2 separate regions of the Homo sapiens genome follow, and region 2 is linked to region 1. Evidence: fine-mapped expression QTL. A gene starts in region 1. The other region holds a variant in brackets. All regions are shown on one strand. Distances are from middle to middle. Region 1 holds the start of TNFRSF4 (TNF receptor superfamily member 4). Region 2 overlaps UBE2J2 (ubiquitin conjugating enzyme E2 J2).

Region 1 (9,134 bases):
TTAGCCAACATGGTGAAACCCTGTCTCTAATAAAATACAAAAATTAGCCGGGTGTGGTGCTGGGCGCCTGTAGTCCCAGCTACTTGGGAGGCTGAGGCAGGAGAATGGCGTGAACCCGGGAGGCAGAGGTTGGTGAGCTGAGATCACACCACTGCACTCCAGCCTGGGTGACACAGCAAGACTCCGGCAAAAAAAAAAAAAGAAAGAAAAAACAAGTGCAGTGAGACGTCTTAGCCCTCGGGAGTGTTTCTCTTCAGCCCCTGACACCATGGAGGCGAACAGGCACCTCCGCCTCCCGAGGGACACAGATGTCGCTTAGACGCCCGGGGTGTCTTCCCTGCGGGAAGCCTGCAGGGCTGCTCCCGCCTTGTTCCCGAGCTGTGGCCTCGGGCGTGACTGGCGCTCGGGAGCAGGCTCTGTGCTGCTCGAAGGATACCCCACTCCCAGACACCAGCTTGAGAAGATTCCCGCACGGCCGGGGACGGCCCCAGGGCCTTGGGAGCGTCTGTGGACACCTGTGGTGTGGGCCGAGGAGCTGGGAGCTCATCTGAACACGCCAGCACTCGCGCATCCACGCTGCTGGCGGATGCCTGGGTTTCTCCACTGTGGGGCCACGTTACATGAAGTCGCTGTGGTCATTCTCATTCAGATCCCAGGACTCTTAAGTGCGCAGGAGTGGGACGGCCGGGGCCCAGGGTGGACAGAAAGTTGGCTCAAGCAGAAACTGTGGTTTCCAAGGTGACTGTCCCCCTGGACACCTATGGCAGGGACATAGGGGCCGTGTGGGCCCTTTGCAGGGACTCCTCGGGGTGCTCAGGGGCCCTGGGACCCCCTTCCAGGTGCAGCAAGGGGTGGGCGTAGGTGTGGAGGGGAAGAGGGGCAGGTCTCTACACTCCTCCTCCAAGGACACAGAGCCCCGGGGGTCAGCCACTCCCAAGCTCCTTGGGCAACCCGGGGCTCAGGGGCCAGCTGCCCTTGTCAGCGCCTGGCCAGGAACCTCCACCCCAGGCAGCCTTGGGCCTGAGCTTTCCCAGTCTCTCCCCCCGCTCCCCACTCAATCTGGAACTCGCACCCAGGGACCAACCTCCAGGGTCCCACTTGACCCCGCTACCCTCACCTCCACCCTGGCCCAAGACCCCTCTCCAGCCACAGGTTGGCACAGCCCAAGTCTCCCAAGACCCCTCTCCAGCCACAGGTTGGCACGGCCCAAGTCTCCCAAGACCCCTTTCCAGCCACAGGTTGGCACGGCCCAAGTCTCCCAAGACCCCTCTCCAGCCAGAGGCGGGCACGGCCCAAGCCTCCCAAGACCCCTGTCCAGCCAGAGGCGGGCACGGCCCAAGCCTCCCAAGACCCCTCTCCAGTCAGAGGCGGGCACGGCCCAAGCCTCCATGCCACAGGTGTGCAGCCCACAGTGCCGGTCGGAGACTCCCGTCTGCCAAGGTTTTTATTGTGGTCCCGCGGGGCAGGAGGTATGCATGGCATACGTAAGCAGAGAGCCGGAGGCAGCCATCGGCACCTAGAACGGTGCAGAGTTGGCCCAGGAGCGTGGCGGGGCAGGCGGCCTGCACCTGCCCTGCTCGCCCAGCAGACCCTCCGGGCTCCAGCCTGGCGGGGCCCAGCGTCCACCTTGGTGGGCCCAGGTCAGATCTTGGCCAGGGTGGAGTGGGCGTCGGCCTGCTCCTCTTGGATGGGGGTCCGGAAACTGCCTCCCCCTGGGGAGGAAAAAAGGAGAGATTGGTGGGTGGGCCTCACCCGCCAGGAGCAGTGCGGCAGGGCCATGAGGCACTCACCAGGGGGCTTGTGGGCATCGGGGGGCAGCCTCTGGTCCCTCCGGAGCAGGTACAGGGCCAGCAGGATGGCCAGGGGGCCCAGCAGCCCCAGCACCAGGCCCAGGCCCAGGATGGCGGCAACCGCACGGCCTGCAGGAAGGGGTCTGCTGGGTGGGGTCCACAGGAGGGGCCCCCATGCCGCCCTCCCCTTCTCCTATTCGGGTTGGGGGCCCCGCTGGGCTGGGCCAGGCGCCCTTACCCCCGGGGACCTCCACGGGCCGGGTGGAGGGTCCCTGTGAGGTTCTGGGCCAGGCTTCAGTGGGCTGGACAGTGATGGGCCTGGCCGGGGGGCCCTGGGTCTCCTGGGGCTGCGTGGCTGGGGGGTCCCTGTCCTCACAGATTGCGTCCGAGCTATTGCTGGCCGGCTGCAGGGTGTGCTTCCCAGCCAAGGTGCAGCTGTTGGGGAACAGGAGGTGTTGCTCAGGCCAGAAACCCCCTGGGACCCGGGAGATGCGGTGGGGATAACAGGGTCCACGCTGGCCAGCCACAGGCAGCATCTACCACAGACACCAGGCCAGTGACAGCCAAGGACGCTGCCCAGCCCCACGTGCCCCCCACAGGGGCCTCCAAGGCCACACACCCTTCTCCCACATCTACACCCCCCACCAGCACCTCCCTGTCCTGTGCCCCCAGGGCCTCCCAGCTGCGGAGGGTGAGGGTCCCACACACCCAGCTCCACCCACAGGGAAAGGCTGCCCCCAGGCAGCAGCTTCCTGCTCCCCAACCAGGTCCAGCCACATAGCCAGGCCCCCAGGGCCACCAGCACCTCCCCTTCCCCCAAAACTGCCCCCACCCCACCTGCCCCCCCAGCCCCTCCCAGCTCCCCAGCTCCTCCGCCCTCCTAACCACCCCAACCCCCCCCCAGCCCCTCCCAGCCCCTGGCCAGGCCCCTCACTTGGTCCAGGGCTTGCAGGCCTGGTTGTCGCCTGGGGAGAAGTGCCCTGGAGGGCAGGGGGCACAGTCTGCAACAAAGATAGGGTGGTCAGGGGCTGCCCACAGGCCCCGGGTGCTGGGGACATGGGGCAGAGCCTGTGGGGCAGGCACTTGCCCCCCATGGCTGGGTGGTGGGTTTGGCCTCTGGAAGCCCTCCCTGCCCACATCCCACCCGTGGGCCCTGACCCGGGAGCTCGGTCTTGAGGATGCCAGAGGAGGCACCGGTGGGGCCAGGTCCCTGCGGCCCACGGCCCATCTGCGTCACAGACAGCCGCTATGCACACCCCCAACCGCCGGCCGCAGCCACCGAGCTCACCAACTCCAGGCTTGTAGCTGTCCAGGGGCTGGGTGCCCGCCCGGCAGCGGCAGACTGTGTCCTGTGTGGCCGTGCACAGCTGCTTCCGCTCACTCCCACTTCCTGAGCAGGGGCCGGATGGGGGGGTGGTCAGGTGGGGGCTGTGGACAGGGTCCTCAGGAAGCGTGGGCACTGGAGGACAGGTTGGCCTCCCCACCACACAGAGGGCCGTGGGCAGGGGTCTGCGGCCTCCCCTGAGACTTGGAGCCCCTGCAGCCCCCGAGGCTCCTGGGCCCTCCCTTCCTGGCCACAACCTGGGGCTGGTTCCGTGGCAGCCCCAGCCACCCTTCCCTACCCCTCCACCGCCTCCAGCCGCCAGCCCCGCCTGCGGCAGGGTCTCCATGGCCCAACCCCCCAGCCTCACTGCTCAGGCCAGCAAGGCCAGGCCACATGGCCAGCGTGGTCTCCCCGACTCCACGTGGCCTGGGCCGAGTCTGGGCCCCCGGAGGGAGAGGGGGTGCCCCTGGGAGACGCCTCAGCTCCTCGAAGGACCCCTGTGGCGGAGCAGACCCCGCTGTGGTTTGAGGTTCGTTTCTGCGGCTGTGGGAGCCCCATGCTGCTGCGTGGGAATGTGGGTGCCAGGCTGCCGCCCCCTGTGCTGGGTGGGGCTGTGGGGCCAGGTGGGAGCTCACTGAGGTTACACCACGTGCAGGGCTTGCACGGCTTGGAGCTGACCACGTCGTTGTAGAAGCCCGGCCCGCACGGACGGCACACCGTGTTCTGGGAGCGGCTGCAGCGGCTCACCATCCCGTTGCCTGCAGCAGAGGCCGGCGTCAGGCAGCGGTCAGGCCCCAGGCTTGCGCCCGTGGACCCCCCCAGGCGGCTCCTCTGCCAGGCTTGGCCGGCCCCTCACCCGCCCCCTCCCCAGGACCAGCCTCCTGGCTGGCCCATCCCTGCCCCAGCCCCCAGTCCCTGGAGTGCCCGTGCGTGGCGACCCCTCCTGAGGCCTCACCTGGCCTGCACTCGTGGCAGCACCGGTCGTTGCTGGGGTAGGTGTCCCCGACACAGTGGAGCCCCGTCACGGTGCTCAGCCCCAGGCCCAGGAGGAGCAGAGCCGCACACGGCCCGCGGCCCAGCCGCCGAGCCCCCACGCACATCCTCGTCTCTGCTGTCGCCAGAGTCTGGGTTTTCCTTGCGGGGTGTGGCTATAAGGACTGTGGAGGAGGGGAGGGGAGAGGGGAGGAGGGCAGAGGAGGCGGGAGGAGGAAGGTGGCAGGCCGGGGACCCTGGCTGTGGGCTGGGCACAAAGGCGGGGTCTGGGCACCCCCAGCATTGGCTTATTCTGCCTTCTGACCTCTTCTGCCCAAGACCACCGTGTTCAGACCCCAGGGCACAGTAGGGCCTGGCCTGCGGCTCGACCCTCAGCAAAAAGGTCCATGGAGCACGTGGGTAAACTGAGGCAGCACTGAGTCAGGAGAGGCAACTCCTCAGTCTGGACCTTCAGGGCTGTGGCACTGCTGAAGCATGGTCCCCCTTGTATGCCCAAGACTAGCTCTGAGCAGCAGTGACCACAGCCATGGTAAGACAGACACCCATGGCCAGGCACGGTGGCTCCCGCCTGTAATCCCAGCACTTTGGGAGGCCAAGGCGGGTGGATCACCTGAGGTCAGGAGTTCAAGACCAGTCTGGCTAACATGGCGAAATCCCGTCTCTACTAAAACTACAAAAATTATTCGGGCGTGGTGGCGGGCGCCGGTAATCCCAGCTAGTCAGGAGGCTGAGGTAGCAGAATCACTCGAACCCAGGAGACAGAAGTTGCAAAGCAGAGGTGGCGCCACTGCACTCCAGCCTGGGCGACAGGGCGAGACTCATCTCAAAAAAAAAAAAAAAGACACCCGTGACCACAGCCCACGCTGAGTGTGCCTGAGCACGGCAGGTGTCTATGGCTGAACTGTGCCCCTTAAATTCCTGCGTGGAAGCCCTAACCCCCATGTGGCAGTGTTTGGAGACAGGCCTCTGAGGAGGTGGTGAGGGTGGGTCCTGGATGGCCTGGCGCACACGGGCACGCAGGCAGGTTTCCACCTTCTATGCAAACAGTTCTCAGGTTCCAGGTTTGCCCAGAGGATGCGAACTGCCCGGAGAGCTGGGGAGCAGGTGCGGGGCTGGGGGCTCCCTGGGCCCTTTCTGCACCTTTCAAATAACTGTGACCAGCCTGTGATTATCCAAAAGTTCATTTTTGAAGTTGCAAGTGGAGAGGGGCCTCTAGGAACAGAGCAGCAGGGAAGGGGCTGGAAATCCCCTCCTCCCAGGAGCACAGGAAACAGCTGCCTGTCCTCGGCCCACCCGTGGGGAAATTCCCAGCCGTGGAGCCCGCTGGCCCTGGAGAGGGAGGGAGTGGAGGGAGAGGCCACCCGCCCTCGGACTGAGGGTCCCTAAGTTGGTCACCCTCCCCACGTCCCCACAAGTAGAGAGGACCCTGGAAGGGCTCAGAGCATCCCAGACAGTGTGTGTACCTGCATGTGCACACCCCAACCCAGGTGGGCAGAGGAGGAAAGTTCTGGCATTTTGTGGAAGGTTCCACCCAGCGTTCACAAGGGTTTCCCACTGACAGTGAGAAAAAGCTTACATTTGCAATTGGTTCCTTGGAGGTTCAGGTGAACTGGGGGTCTTGGTGGGCAACACTGCTCTCCTGGGGCCTAAGTGGCCACATCTGCCCACAGGTGCAGTGAGTGGGGCCCGTGCACCATGGAGAGGGCACCCCCAGCATATTGCTGGCAACTGCAATGGCCCCAGGATGGGGCACGGCCCCTCCTGCTTGAAGCTGCCCAGGAAGCTCAGGTCTCCTTGTCCTGGGCTTAAGGTCACAGGTCCAAGAAAGCCCTGCTGTGTCCATGGAACCGGGTGTGGCGTGGCCACAGGAGGCTGGACACTGACCCAGAGCTCAGGACCCCCAAGGTCTGTAAGGCAGCCTGCAGCTCGAACCACATCCCCAGGAGCTGGGCTCCCCGCTCCACACAGTAGTGTCGCGGGCGGCACAGGGCAGCCCATGAGTGGCCACTGCTCCTCCAGTACCAGACTGGAGCTGGCTGGGGCCTCTGAAGGGCCAGGTGCCACCACATACCCAGCTGTCCCCCCGCCTTCATGTCCAGCACAGCATGGCCTCAGCTCACACCTCCCACCTCTGGGTGCACGGCCCTCAGCACAGGGCGTCGAATGCTGCTGCAGCTATGATGGTCCCTGGCTGTGGCCTGGGGCCACGGATGGGGAAAGACAGAGTCCAGGCCACCGAAGGTTGGCTCCAGGGAATTACAGCCCCTTAGAGCAGGGCGTGGGACCATCCTCCCACCACCTGCGCTGGCCGTGGCTCTGTGAATCTCGTTTGCCTGGGAACCAGCCCAGGTGCCAACCCGCCCTCTCGGCCCCACAGGGGCCCCTGGGCAGGTGGGCTCAGGGCAGAGGCCGGTCACATGGGCACCACAGGGCAGACTGAAGAGGACACACTCCCGGCTTCCCTGAGCTCCCACTGGGAGAGCCAGGACACAGCCTGGGCCCCCACACGCCACAGAGCAGGACCCCCACCAGCCGTCCTAACACACCCCATTCTCTGCCCCATCTGGGGCTAGGCCTGCCCCACTGCACCCAAAGACCTTGCCATCCTCCACCCAAAACCCCCAGGCGGCTCTGTCTCCTGCCTTAAATGTCCAAACCCCAAACTCAGTGGGCACGTCTGCTGCCCCCTGACCCCTACTCACAAACGCAGCGCTGCCCTCCGTCCTCCCAGAGCCCCTGCCCGTTGCCACCTGCCAGGAGAATCACCTCGAACCGGCCATGACCTCCAACCCTCCACGTGACCCAGCACCAGCCTCCAGCGCTCCAGTGGAAACTGTAACCACAAACCTAGCACGCTGCTGTTGTGTTTTGTTTCACGCCCAAAGAATGAAGCTGACCAAAAAAGGCAACTATATTTAAAGTAAATGTATGTGATTCTTGTCACAACAAATATTTGCATTTTCTCAGCGGCAGCTGCGGGACCTGGGTGGCTCCGACACGCCAGGCCCGGGAAGGACCCGGCACCCTCCCCTGAACTTCCTGGCTACTCATTTCCAGCGAAGTTTAATCTATTTTTAATAATCGTTCAGTTTTCAAGGAAATGGAGGAGCTGTTTTTTCCCACGGAGCGGCGGCCCTGGGAGGGGCCGGGCCCAGAGGTTCCGGCCGCGATGCCGTCAGCGCCTTCGGCAGAGTGACTGAAGCGAGATTTCGTTCTCAGAAGTGAGATGCCACGATTTCGAGGGACCAGGGAGGAGGCGGCGCCGCGGGGCCACAGCCCAGCCCCGCGCCCCGACCGCGTCACAGCCAAAGCCCCGCCGGGGTGCGCGCTGCAGAGGGGACACGCCGCTCATCAACTGGGGCAGCCGCGGTCGGTCGGCCGGTGGCGGGCGGCAGGGAAGAGGTGGGGTCCGGGACAGCCACGGAGCCCGGAGTCACCCGCGAGGCCGCCCCGGTGGTGCGTGGGGGGCGGCGCGGGGCGCGGCCGGGCGCTCAAAACTCCTCGTGCACGCTGCGCGCGTAGTCCACCAGCTTGCTGCCCGTGAAGAACTCGCTGTACTTGAGCACCTCCTCGGGCTCCAGGTGGTGGTTCTGGTTCTCGTCGGCGACGGCGATCATCTGCTTGGCCTCGTTCAGCGCGTTGTACTCGTTCATGGGGTCCATGTAGCTCTGCGGGCGAGCGGGGCACAGGTCAGCGTCGCCTTTCCCCCTCCGAGCTCCGCGGCCAGCCGCACGAAGTGGCTATTTAAGGTGCCTATTGGCTGCAGCGGGAGTGTGGGCACGTTCTGGAAGGTTCCCGAAGGGAGGCGGCACAAATGAAAACACAGGGCAGGGAGAAGCCGGGGGCCCCGGAAGGCCTGCCCGGGGCCAGCAGGGGTAACGGGGCACAGGGGCTACACAGGCCTGGACCCCAGTTCTGAAGGATCCCTAACCTGGGCCGGGCCCACTGGCTGTCGCCAGGAATCACAGGATTCTACATAAAAACAAGATGACTCACTCAGCAGTGGGAGAAAAACAAGCCTACACATGATACCAGTGAAAACGCTTCAGAGGAAGGTGGTAAATTCCAGCCATGTGGCACAGGCCGCCCCGCCCACCTGCACCTGCTGGGCCTTGGACCTGCCTCCATGCTGGGCCCAGCATGAGCTTCCCCTTGTGGTCCCGTTAAAAAGGGGCTGTGAGAACCCTGACGCCTCCGCAAGGGGCTGAGGATGGAGCCCGGCCAGGCTCGCCTGTCTCTGATCCGTCTGAACCTAAACGCCAACAACGGCCATGCAGCCTGGTGGACACCGCTGAGCAAACGCCCCAGTGACCAGCCCAGATGGAGTCTCAGGCCAGACACCAGCACAGCTTCCTGCCTCAGGCCCAGATCCACCAGCCCCTCCCGCCACAGCACCTCGCAGGGCCGGCTCCGGGACACGGCTGCGCCAGGGCTCACCTCCAGCTCCTCGGCGGTCACGATGCCGTCGTGGTTGGAGTCAATGAGCTCCTCAAACTCCTTTTTTCTGTCTTTCACCCAGTTGTCGTCAATGTCCTGGCCCTGCTGGTTCTCCACGGTGCCCACGGGCAGGGAGATGAACTCGGGCACAGAGAGCTGCTTGTCACCGTCCTGGTCTGCGAGACGGGAATGGGTCAGCCCACACCCAGGCTGGGGCTCCCGCAGGACCTGCCCCGACCTCCCGACGATGCCCGGCCCCTGCCAGTCGGTCCTGGGTCCTGGCGTGCCGGCCAGGCTGGACCCAGCCTCACCCAGGTCCCGGACGATCTCCTTCACCATGAACCTGAGCATTCCCCGGCTGTGCTCGGGGTGGAGGAACGACAGGAACTCCTCCTCCGTCAGCAGCAGGTCTGCAGGGGGGCTGTCCGCCTGGTACCAGCGGTCCTTCAGGTTCTCCAGGACTTCCTGTGCTGAGAGGGGCGCAGCCTGTGGGTATCGAGGCCGACAGACGCCAGCACGCAAATCCAGAAAGTTCCGAGAGGTGCTGCCTGAACTCGAGGGACACAGCCACCCGCGAGACCGGGGCCCCA
Region 2 (9,134 bases), 37 kb after region 1:
GGTCCTGGGGGTGCTGGCCGGCCTCGCTGGGGCCCCACTCGGGGGAAAGGTGAGGCCAGATCATGGCGACAGGCCCCTTGGGCTCAGTGGCTGGAGGAATGGGGTGGCCAGGTGGGGCTGGAAGACCCTCCAGCCGCTGGTCCTGGCCGAGGCTAACAGTGGCCCAAGGTCAACATGCCGGCCCTGATGGACAGCTCGGAACACTCCAGACCCTCCCCTCTTGCCAGACACGAAGGTAGCCACGCCGAGACCCCAGCGTCAACCCCAGCCCCAGGCCACATCCACAGGCAGAGCCACGGGAGACCAGGCTGGGATGGGGATGACGCTTGGGAACCCACCAGGGACCCCGGCTGCCCCCTCGCCCTCCGGGCTCTCAGGCACTGACTGGCATCTCCAGAGAGCACTGTGGAAGCCTCCCGGCCCCGTGTCCGCTCGTGAAGGTGGTGGAGGACCCTGGGGACACGGCACAGCGCCCACACAGTACCAGCCCTGCTGGACCCCCGCAGGTGAGCCCTGGATGTGGCCTGCATCTAGCATGGGTCGGGAAAGGCAGCCCCAACACCCCTCAATCCAGGCTTGGGGCAAAGGGAGGGGTGGGCAGGTGCCCTGGCCAAGGAGACCCCCCGCCCAGGGCTACCAGACCCCTCCTCACAGGCAGGGCATCCAAATTTTCTCTGTCACCCACTGGCAATGAGCTCCCCTGTGACTCTAGACAGAACAGGCTGGATCTCCAACTCTGACCTACAGGCAGGAAAGTGGGCAGCCCTGGGAGGCTGGACTGAGGGAGGCTGGACTTCCCACTCAGGCCTACACGCAGGAAAATGGGCAGCCCTGGGAGGCTGGACCGAGGGAGGCTGGGCCTCCCACTCCACCCTACAGGCCAGGACACGGGCAGCCCTGGGAGGCTAGACCGAGGGAGGCTGGGCCTCCCATCTACCCTACAGGCCGGGACACAGGCAGCCCTGGGAGGCTGTACCGAGGGAGGCTGGGCCTCCCCCTCTGCCCTACAGGCAGGAAAACGGGCAGCCCTGGGAGGCTGGACCAAGGGAGGCTGGACTTCCCACTCTACCCTACAGGCAGGAAAACAGGCAGCCCTGGGAGGCTGGACCGAGGGAGGCTGGGCCTCCCACTCTGCCCTATAGGCCGGGACACAGGCAGCCCTGGGAGGCTAGACCGAGGGAGGCTGGGCCTCCCACTCTGCCCTACAGGCAGGAAAACGGGCAGCCCTGGGAGGCTGGACCAAGGGAGGCTGGACTTCCCAATCTACCCTACAGGCAGGAAAACAGGCAGCCCTGGGAGGCTGGACCGAGGGAGGCTGGGCCTCCCACTCTGCCCTACAGGCCGGGACACAGGCAGCCCTGGGAGGCTGGAGCAAGGGAGGCTGGGCCTCCCACTCCGCCCTACAGGCCGGGACACGGGCAGCCCTGGGAGGCTAGACCGAGGGAGGCTGGGCCTCCCACTCTGCCCTACAGGCAGGAAAACGGGCAGCCCTGGGAGGCTGGACCGAGGGAGGCTGGACTTCCCACTCTACCCTACAGGCAGGAAAACGGGCAGCCCTGGGAGGCTGGAGCGAGGGAGGCTGGGCCTCCCACTCCGCCCTACAGGCCGGGACACGGGCAGCCCTGGGAGGCTGGAGCGAGGGAGGCTGGGCCTCCCACTCCGCCCTACAGGCCGGGACACGGGCAGCCCTGGGAGGCTGGAGCGAGGGAGGCTGGGCCTCCCACTCCGCCCTACAGGCCGGGACACGGGCAGCCCTGGGAGGCTGGACCGAGGGAGGCTGGGCCTCCCACTCCGCCCTACAGGCCGGGACACGGGCAGCCCTGGGAGGCTGGACCGAGGGAGGCTGGGCCTCCCACTCCGCCCTACAGGCCGGGACACGGGCAGCCCTGGGAGGCTGGACCGAGGGAGGCTGGGCCTCCCACTCCGCCCTACAGGCCGGGACACGGGCAGCCCTGGGAGGCTGGACCGAGGGAGGCTGGGCCTCCCACTCCGCCCTACAGGCCGGGACACGGGCAGCCCTGGGAGGCTGGACCGAGGGAGGCTGGGCCTCCCACTCCGCCCTACAGGCCGGGACACGGGCAGCCCTGGGAGGCTGGACCGAGGGAGGCTGGGCCTCCCACTCCGCCCTACAGGCCGGGACACGGGCAGCCCTGGGAGGCTGGACCGAGGGAGGCTGGGCCTCCCACTCCGCCCTACAGGCCGGGACACGGGCAGCCCTGGGAGGCTGGACCGAGGGAGGCTGGGCCTCCCACTCCGCCCTACAGGCCGGGACACGGGCAGCCCTGGGAGGCTAGACCGAGGGAGGCTGGGCCTCCCCCTCTGCCCTACAGGCAGGAAAACGGGCAGCCCTGGTGTAGAGGGCAGCCCTACAGGGTTTGTGGGTTTTTCTCCCCGTGTGCGGAGATGAGAGATCGTAGAAATAAAGATACAACACAAAGAAATAAAAAAGACAGCTGGGCCCGGGGGACCACTACCACCAAGATGTGGAGACCGGTAGTGGCCCCGAATGCCAGGCTGCGCTGTTATTTATTGGATACAAGACAAAGGGGCAGGATAAGGAGCGTGAGCCATCTCCAGTGATAGGTAAAGTCACGTGGGTCACGTGTCCACTGGACGGGGGCCCTTCCCTGTTTGGCAGCCAAGGCAGGGGCCAGGGAGAGAGAGAGACAGCTTACGCCATTATTTCTGCTTATCAGAGACTTTTAGTACTTTCACTAATTTTGCTACTGTTATCTAAAAGGCAAAGCCAGGTGTACAGGATGGAACGTGAAGGCGGACTAGGAGTGTGACCGCTGAAGCACAGCATCATAGGGAGACGGTTAGGCCTTCGGATAACTGTGGGTGGGCCTGACCCTCCACAAGAGGTGGAGGAGTAGAGTCTTCTCTAAACTCCCCCGGGGAAAGGGAGACTCCCCTTCCCAGTCTGCTAAGTAGCGGGTGTTTTCCCTTGACACTGACGCTACCGCTAGACCACGGTCTGCTTAGGTCACGGGTGCCTTCCCAGGCGCTGGCGTTACTGCTAGACCAAGGAGCCCTCTGGTGGCCCTGTCCGGGCGTAACGGAAGGCTCGCACTCTTGTCTTCTGGTCACTTCTCACCATGTCCCCTCAGCTCCTATCTCGGTATGGCCTGGTTTTTCCTAGATTATGATTATAGAGCGAGGATTATTATAATATTGGAATAAAGAATAATTACTACAAACTAATGATTAGTGACACATATGGTCTATACCAAGTATAACTCTTATTTTATATATTTTGTTACACTGGGACAGCTTGTGCCCTCGGTCTCTTCCCTCGGCACCTGGGTGACTTGCTGCCCTCACCCTGGGAGGCTGGGCCTAACTGGGAAGGATGTGGCTTCGTGTTCCCAACCCCAGGCACCTTTAAAATGAGCTGAGCCTGGCACCCAGGCAGGAACACTCAGCCCCCATGCTCCCTCTAGAAGACGACCAAGAGGACCCCACCCTCTGGGTCACCCACCAAGGATCCAGGGTACCCTGGGCCACAGCCACGAGCTGCTCACAAGGGGAGGCTCAGGTGCAGCTGCTGGCTCTGCTCACCCCCTGCACCCCCCAACGCAGACACCCTGACACCCCCCGGCCCTGGAAAAATGGCAAAGGACCACGGTGCCCTGCCCAGCCGCCTGCTGCAGGGAGAGCAGCTCCCTCAGACCCGGAGTGCTCTGCTGTGCCGGCTGGTTCATCAGCACTCAGGCAGGCCTGGGCATGCGCTCACAGAGAAGCTCGAGGTTGCCAGAACACAGGAAACGCCTCTTCTTTCCTGTGACCACGAGGCCACGTGCTCACCTGTCTGCAGAATATCAACTTTTAAGGGGCTTTTCTCTCCTCATTAAAAGACTTCACAGTGTGCTCTGCATGGCGAGGGGACACACCGTGCTCCCAGGGGGAAGTCAAGGACGGCCTCCACCGGTGACAACACAAGAACAGAGGGGCCCACGATTCCTCTAAGGGAGACGGGGACAGAGGGTCAGACGTGCCCGGCCCAACAGGCCAAACATCATTTTTTTTTTTTTTTTAGACAGAGTCTCACTCTGTCAGCCAGGCTGGAGAGCAGTGGCACGATCTTGGCTCACTGCAACCTCCACCTCCTGGACTCGAGTGATTCTCCTGCCTCAGCCTCCTGAGTAGCTGGGATTACAAGCACATGCCACCATGCCCGGCTAATTTTGTATTTTCAGTAGAGACAGGGTTTCACCATGTTGGCCAGGCTGGTCTCGAACTCCTGACCTCAGGTAATCTGCCCACCTCAGCCTCCCAAAGCGCTGGGATTACAGGAGTGAGCCACCACGCCCGGCCCAAACATCATTTTTTATTTTGGGCCAGTGCGGACAACATGCCACGGGCACCACCTTCACTGCTTGACCGATGATCGCTAAAAGTTGAGATTTCAGTTGGGCGTGGTGGCTCACGCCTGTAATCCCAGCACTTTGGGAGGCTGAGGCAAGCAGATCACGAGGTCAGGAGTTTCAGACCAGCCTGGCCAATATGGTGAAACCCCGTCTCTACTTAAAATTAGCTGGGTGTGGTGGCAGGCACCTGTAATCCCAGCTACTTGGGAGGCTGAGGCAGGAGAATCACTTGAACCCAGGAGGCAGAGGTCACAGTGAGCAGAGATCACGCCACTGTACTCCAGCCTGGGCGACAGAGCAAGACTCCGTCTCAAAAAAAAAAAAAAAGTTGAGATTTTAGTCGGGCGCGGTGGCTCACGCCTGTGATCCTAACACTTTGGGAGGCCGAGGCAGGTGGATCCCTTGAGCTCAGGAGTTCAAGACCAGCCTGCGCAACATGACGAAACTCCATCTCTACAAAAAATACAAAAATTAGCCAGGCATGGTGGCGCACACTTGCGGTCCCAGATATGTAGGGGGCTGAGTTTGGAGGATCCCTTGAGCCCAGGAGGTCACCGTTACATGTGGGCGGCAAGCCACCCAGGTGCCGAGGCAAGAGACCGAGGGCATGAGCTGTTCCAGTGTAATAAAGAAAATATACACAATAAGAATAGTTACACTAGAAATAGATTATAGATGTGATGATATATGAATATTCTTAATCATTAGTTTCTAGCATTACTCTTCATTCCAATATTATAATAATCTCTGTTCTACAACTATAACCTAGGAAAAACCAGGCCATACAGAGATAGGAGCTGAGGGGACATAGTGAGAAGTGACCAGGAGACAAGAGTGTGAGCCCTCTGTCACGCCCGGACAGGGCCACCAGAGGGGTCCCTGGTCTAGCGGTAGCGCTAGCGCCTGG[C/G]AAGGCACCAGTTACTTAGCAGACGGGGAAAGGGAGTCTCCTTTTCCCCGGGGGAGTTAGAGAAGACTCTGCTCCACCATCTCTTGTGCAAGGCGACATCAGTCAGGCCCACCCGCAGCCATCCAGAGGCCCGTCTCCCCGTGATGCTGTGCTTCAGCGGTCACACTCCTGGTCTGCTTTCGTGGTCCGCCCTGTACACCGGGCTCCGCCTTCTAGATAGCAGTAGCACAATGAGTGAAAGTACTAAAAGTCTTTGAAATACATAGAAGAAAGAATGGTGTAAGCTGTCCTCTCTCTCTCTCCGCCTCGGCTGCCAAACAGGGAAGGGCCCCCTGTCCAGTGGACACGAGACACACGTGACCTTACCTATCATTAGAGATGGCTCACGCTCCTTACCCTGCCCCCTTGCCTTGTATCCAATAAATAACAGCGCAGCCAGGCATTCGGGGCCACTACCGGCCTCCACATCTAGGTGGTAGTGGTCCCCCGGGCCCAGCTGTCTTTTCTTCTATCCCTGTCTTGTGTCTTTATTTCTATGATCTCACATCTCTCCGTACACAAGAAGAACCCACAGGCCCAGTAGGGCTGGACCCTGCAGTTACAGGGAGCCATGATAGCACCATTGCACTCCACACTGGGCAACAACAGAGCAAGACTTTGTCTCCAAAAAACAAAAAAACAAAGTTGAGATTTCACATCTAGACGACATTTGAGACAGGGTCTGGCTTCGCTGCCCAGGCTGGATTGCGGTGGCTCCATCATGGCTCACTGTAGCCTCCACCTGCCGGGCTCAGGCAATCCTCCCACCTCAGCCTCCTGAGTAGCTGGGACCAAAGGTGCACATCACCACACCAGGTAGTGTTTTGTATTTTTTGTGAGATGGGGTCTCACTACATTGCCCAGGCTGGGTTCAAGAGATCCACCCCTCAGCCTCCCAAAGTGCTGGGATTATAGGCGGCAGCCACTGCACCCGGCAGTAGCGTGTTGAGTAAACACTCTATTCGTTAGCATTCCCCCTCCCATGAGCCTCGGGAGACACCGGGCTTTGGAAGTGATGCTGGCGGTCACAGAAGCGGAGATCAGGGCAGGGCTGGCATCCAGTACGGGATGGGGAGAGAGCCCTGCAGAGGGCTCTACACCATGGCTCCAGCGACGCGATTCCCTGTGGGGACCCACCTGCCCTGCAGCTGCCACACCACCCCAGGCCAGCAGGTGTGACCCCCTGGTCACGGGCCACCCCAGCCCTGAGCACAGAGATGGACACACATCCCGGCCCACACAGACACAAGCAGCATGAAATTCAGAAATAAAGATATAATGAAAGACCTTTTTTTTCCACAAGAATAGGTTAAATACATACAATTGGTAAATTATAGAGCAATTCTGAATAAACTGATCAAAAAACGAAGAAAGATGAGCGCGTGCGGGCTGGGCTTGTCTCACGCCCGCCTCCGGACAGGGTGGGTTTCTTGCCGGCGGCCGTGCCCCACCTCGACGCGATGCACCTGCGGTACATCCCACCCAGGCGAAGTCACGGAACAGACGCAGAAGAGGGGAGACGGCCGAGACCCGGGGAGCCACGCGGCCCGAAACAGCCCCTGCTGGCTCTGGCGTCTTTCCGGGCCGGGGTGCCCCTCTGCCATGTTCCGTGGACAGCGAACACCCGGGCCGGAGCCATTACCTACTGTGAAGGCCAGCGCAGGGGGCACGGGATGTGAGGGAGGCCCCCGAGTGCACGGGGCCTTCTGCAGGGACTCCGGTCCTCCGCCTTCCACCAGCATAGGAGGACGGGCTTCTGGCCCACCGGACATAAGGAATTCAGAGAAAAGGCTCTGCAGGTACCCAAGGCCCCCCAGCCTGCAGCACCGAGGGGCGCCCAGGAGGCCCGGCCTGCGGAGGGCACCGGCAGCCCCCGCCCCGCTCGCGGCCGCCGCAGTCAAGGGCGACTTGTGGTTGGAGTGAGCAGGCTCCTGGCTTCCAGGGCAGCAAAAACCCCCAAGCACTTTCTAGAAGGAATGTGTTTCATTCTGACTGTAAACACATTTGTAAATGCTGAGACCAAACCCCGACTTATGGATCCTGAGCCACGGCCGTCACTGGCCCCGCTAAGCCTCATCACCACACGGCCAGGCCAGACCAGCACCCGCGGACGCCAGCTCCACCCCTGGGCCCCGAGGTTCCCACCCGCTGAGGAGCCGGGAGCTCCGAGAAACGCGCCAGGAGCTCCAAGAACGCAGGAGCAGCCCGCGGTCGGCAGCAAGTTTGCATTTCTAAGTGACCACATCTAATAAAATGAAAAACGGGTTTACTAAAACAGGTCCAAAGACAACACGGAAGATAAGCTACAAATCCAGCACACAAGGCCCACCCACACCAGCCCCAGCGGCCCGTGGCCAGGACAGGGCTGAGGCTCCAGTCTCCTCCAAAGCCCAGTCACACATTTTGGTTTTTGCTTCCCCTTTCAGGTTTTTAAAAGCTAAACCTAGGAGCCTGGTGGGTCTGCCTGTGCTGGGCAGTGTGTCCAGCCTGCCGAGGTCACGCTCTGGTGCGCGGTGCCCTCAGTGGCGCCTTGGGTCTCGGCGCCTGGGCCTCACTCCTGCGCGATGCTCCTCAGCACGTACTTGACCGTGTAAGCAAAGGCTGCAAACCCAACTATCACAAACAAGTTCGCCAGGGCGCCACCCAGGAGTCCGTGGTGCCGGTTGGCCTGCTGGAGCCCTGCGAGGTTTGGGACGGCCCCCGGCGCATGCCCGTTGAGCAGCTGAATCCCGTTCTGGACGAGGTGCGTCTCCCCGTCTGGAACCACGTCTGGCAAGGGGAGAGTCTGGGGTCTGCTACTGAGTTCGTCTTGTGCTTTCTGTTTTTGTTTAATCTCCTAAGAGAAAAACAGCGAGAAAAGCAGCTGGTCTCCAACCAGCGCCTTTCAGGACCAGCACTCCCGTTCTCAGGAGTCCACGGTCCACCACCAAGAACCAAGCCCTAGGCTGTGTCAAATTCCGACCCCATCTCACAGGTGAGGGCCCGAGCGTGGCCGGCCTCACTGGCCCTGTGCCCCTTGGCCCCTGCACTCAGGCAGACCAGAGCAAGGCTGAGCCACAGAGGCCAAGACCAGGGAGCACTCCAGTCCCAGTCCCACATGGCAGCCGCTGTGCCTCCCAGCTATCCCCAGACACCACCCAGCTGGCTGCTCAGAACCACGAGCTCCACGCCCCTGTGGGACAGGCCCAGCCCCCGGCCCACCAGCACAGCTGTCCGCAGGCCACCCCCCAGAGCCCAGGCTTTCTGCCTCCCCTGCCTCGGGGCTCCTGGGGGAGAGGAGCCATCCCCTGGGGAGGTCTGCAGCTTCAGGACACAGATTTTACTCTTTGGAAAGAGGTGAAACTCAAGTGTTTTAACGCAGGGGAAGGCGAAACCCACTTCCGTCTTTCTTACCTCCACGACTTCAGGAAATAATTCACAAAAGACTTTATCTTTCAAATTAAATGCTAAACTCTGCACTGCCAGTTGTCTTTTCTAGGAAGGAAGGGAAGGGAATCAGCCAGAAAACTAATTTCAATTCTTTCAAGATTCTAAAAACAGATGATTTCAAAGTCAAGGGCTGCAGTCTTCGTGTTGCAGAAAGCATTTAATAAGCACACTCTTCACAGCAAACTAACTTATAGTCTTACAAAGCCTTCTTAATCTTCCCCCCATCAATTCATGATATCACACTTGATTCCTATTAAAGACAGGGAAAAACAAGCCACCAAAGCACCGGGCTCCCCGCTGACAAGGCCCGGGCCGTCTGTGCAACTGGTACCGCCTTGGCCCACCCCAAGATCCCAAGGAGGAGCCCCTGGCGGGTGTGGATGAGGCTG

Evidence for each region. PIP is the estimated chance that this variant, and not a neighbour inherited with it, causes the effect. A credible set is the group of variants that fine-mapping cannot tell apart.
Region 2: its variant is the best candidate, but not a certain one, in a credible set for the expression of TNFRSF4 in whole blood (INTERVAL, PIP 0.79).

What each region holds. Positions count from the first base shown.
Region 1 is chr1:1,209,914-1,219,047 of GRCh38, forward strand. It overlaps TNFRSF4 (TNF receptor superfamily member 4), which reads right to left and starts at 4,240. Exons shown (of 7, transcript NM_003327.4): 1 at 4,070-4,240; 2 at 3,750-3,872; 3 at 3,079-3,180; 4 at 2,725-2,791; 5 at 2,029-2,225; 6 at 1,791-1,919; 7 at 1,427-1,712. The coding sequence starts at 4,214. The coding sequence ends at 1,642. SDF4 (stromal cell derived factor 4) reads right to left here. Exons shown (of 7, transcript NM_016176.6): 5 at 8,856-9,014; 6 at 8,545-8,720; 7 at 7,018-7,775. The coding sequence ends at 7,599. RefSeq lists a silencer at 3,318-3,367.
Region 2 is chr1:1,247,336-1,256,469 of GRCh38, forward strand. UBE2J2 (ubiquitin conjugating enzyme E2 J2) reads right to left here. Exons shown (of 7, transcript NM_058167.3): 6 at 8,710-8,790; 7 at 6,577-8,152. The coding sequence ends at 7,868. Among named protein-coding and RNA genes, the nearest start is that of C1QTNF12, 5.2 kb to the left of the region's middle. RefSeq lists enhancers at 1-111, 112-892, 3,819-4,098. The variant C/G (reference allele first, on the strand shown) is at 5,278.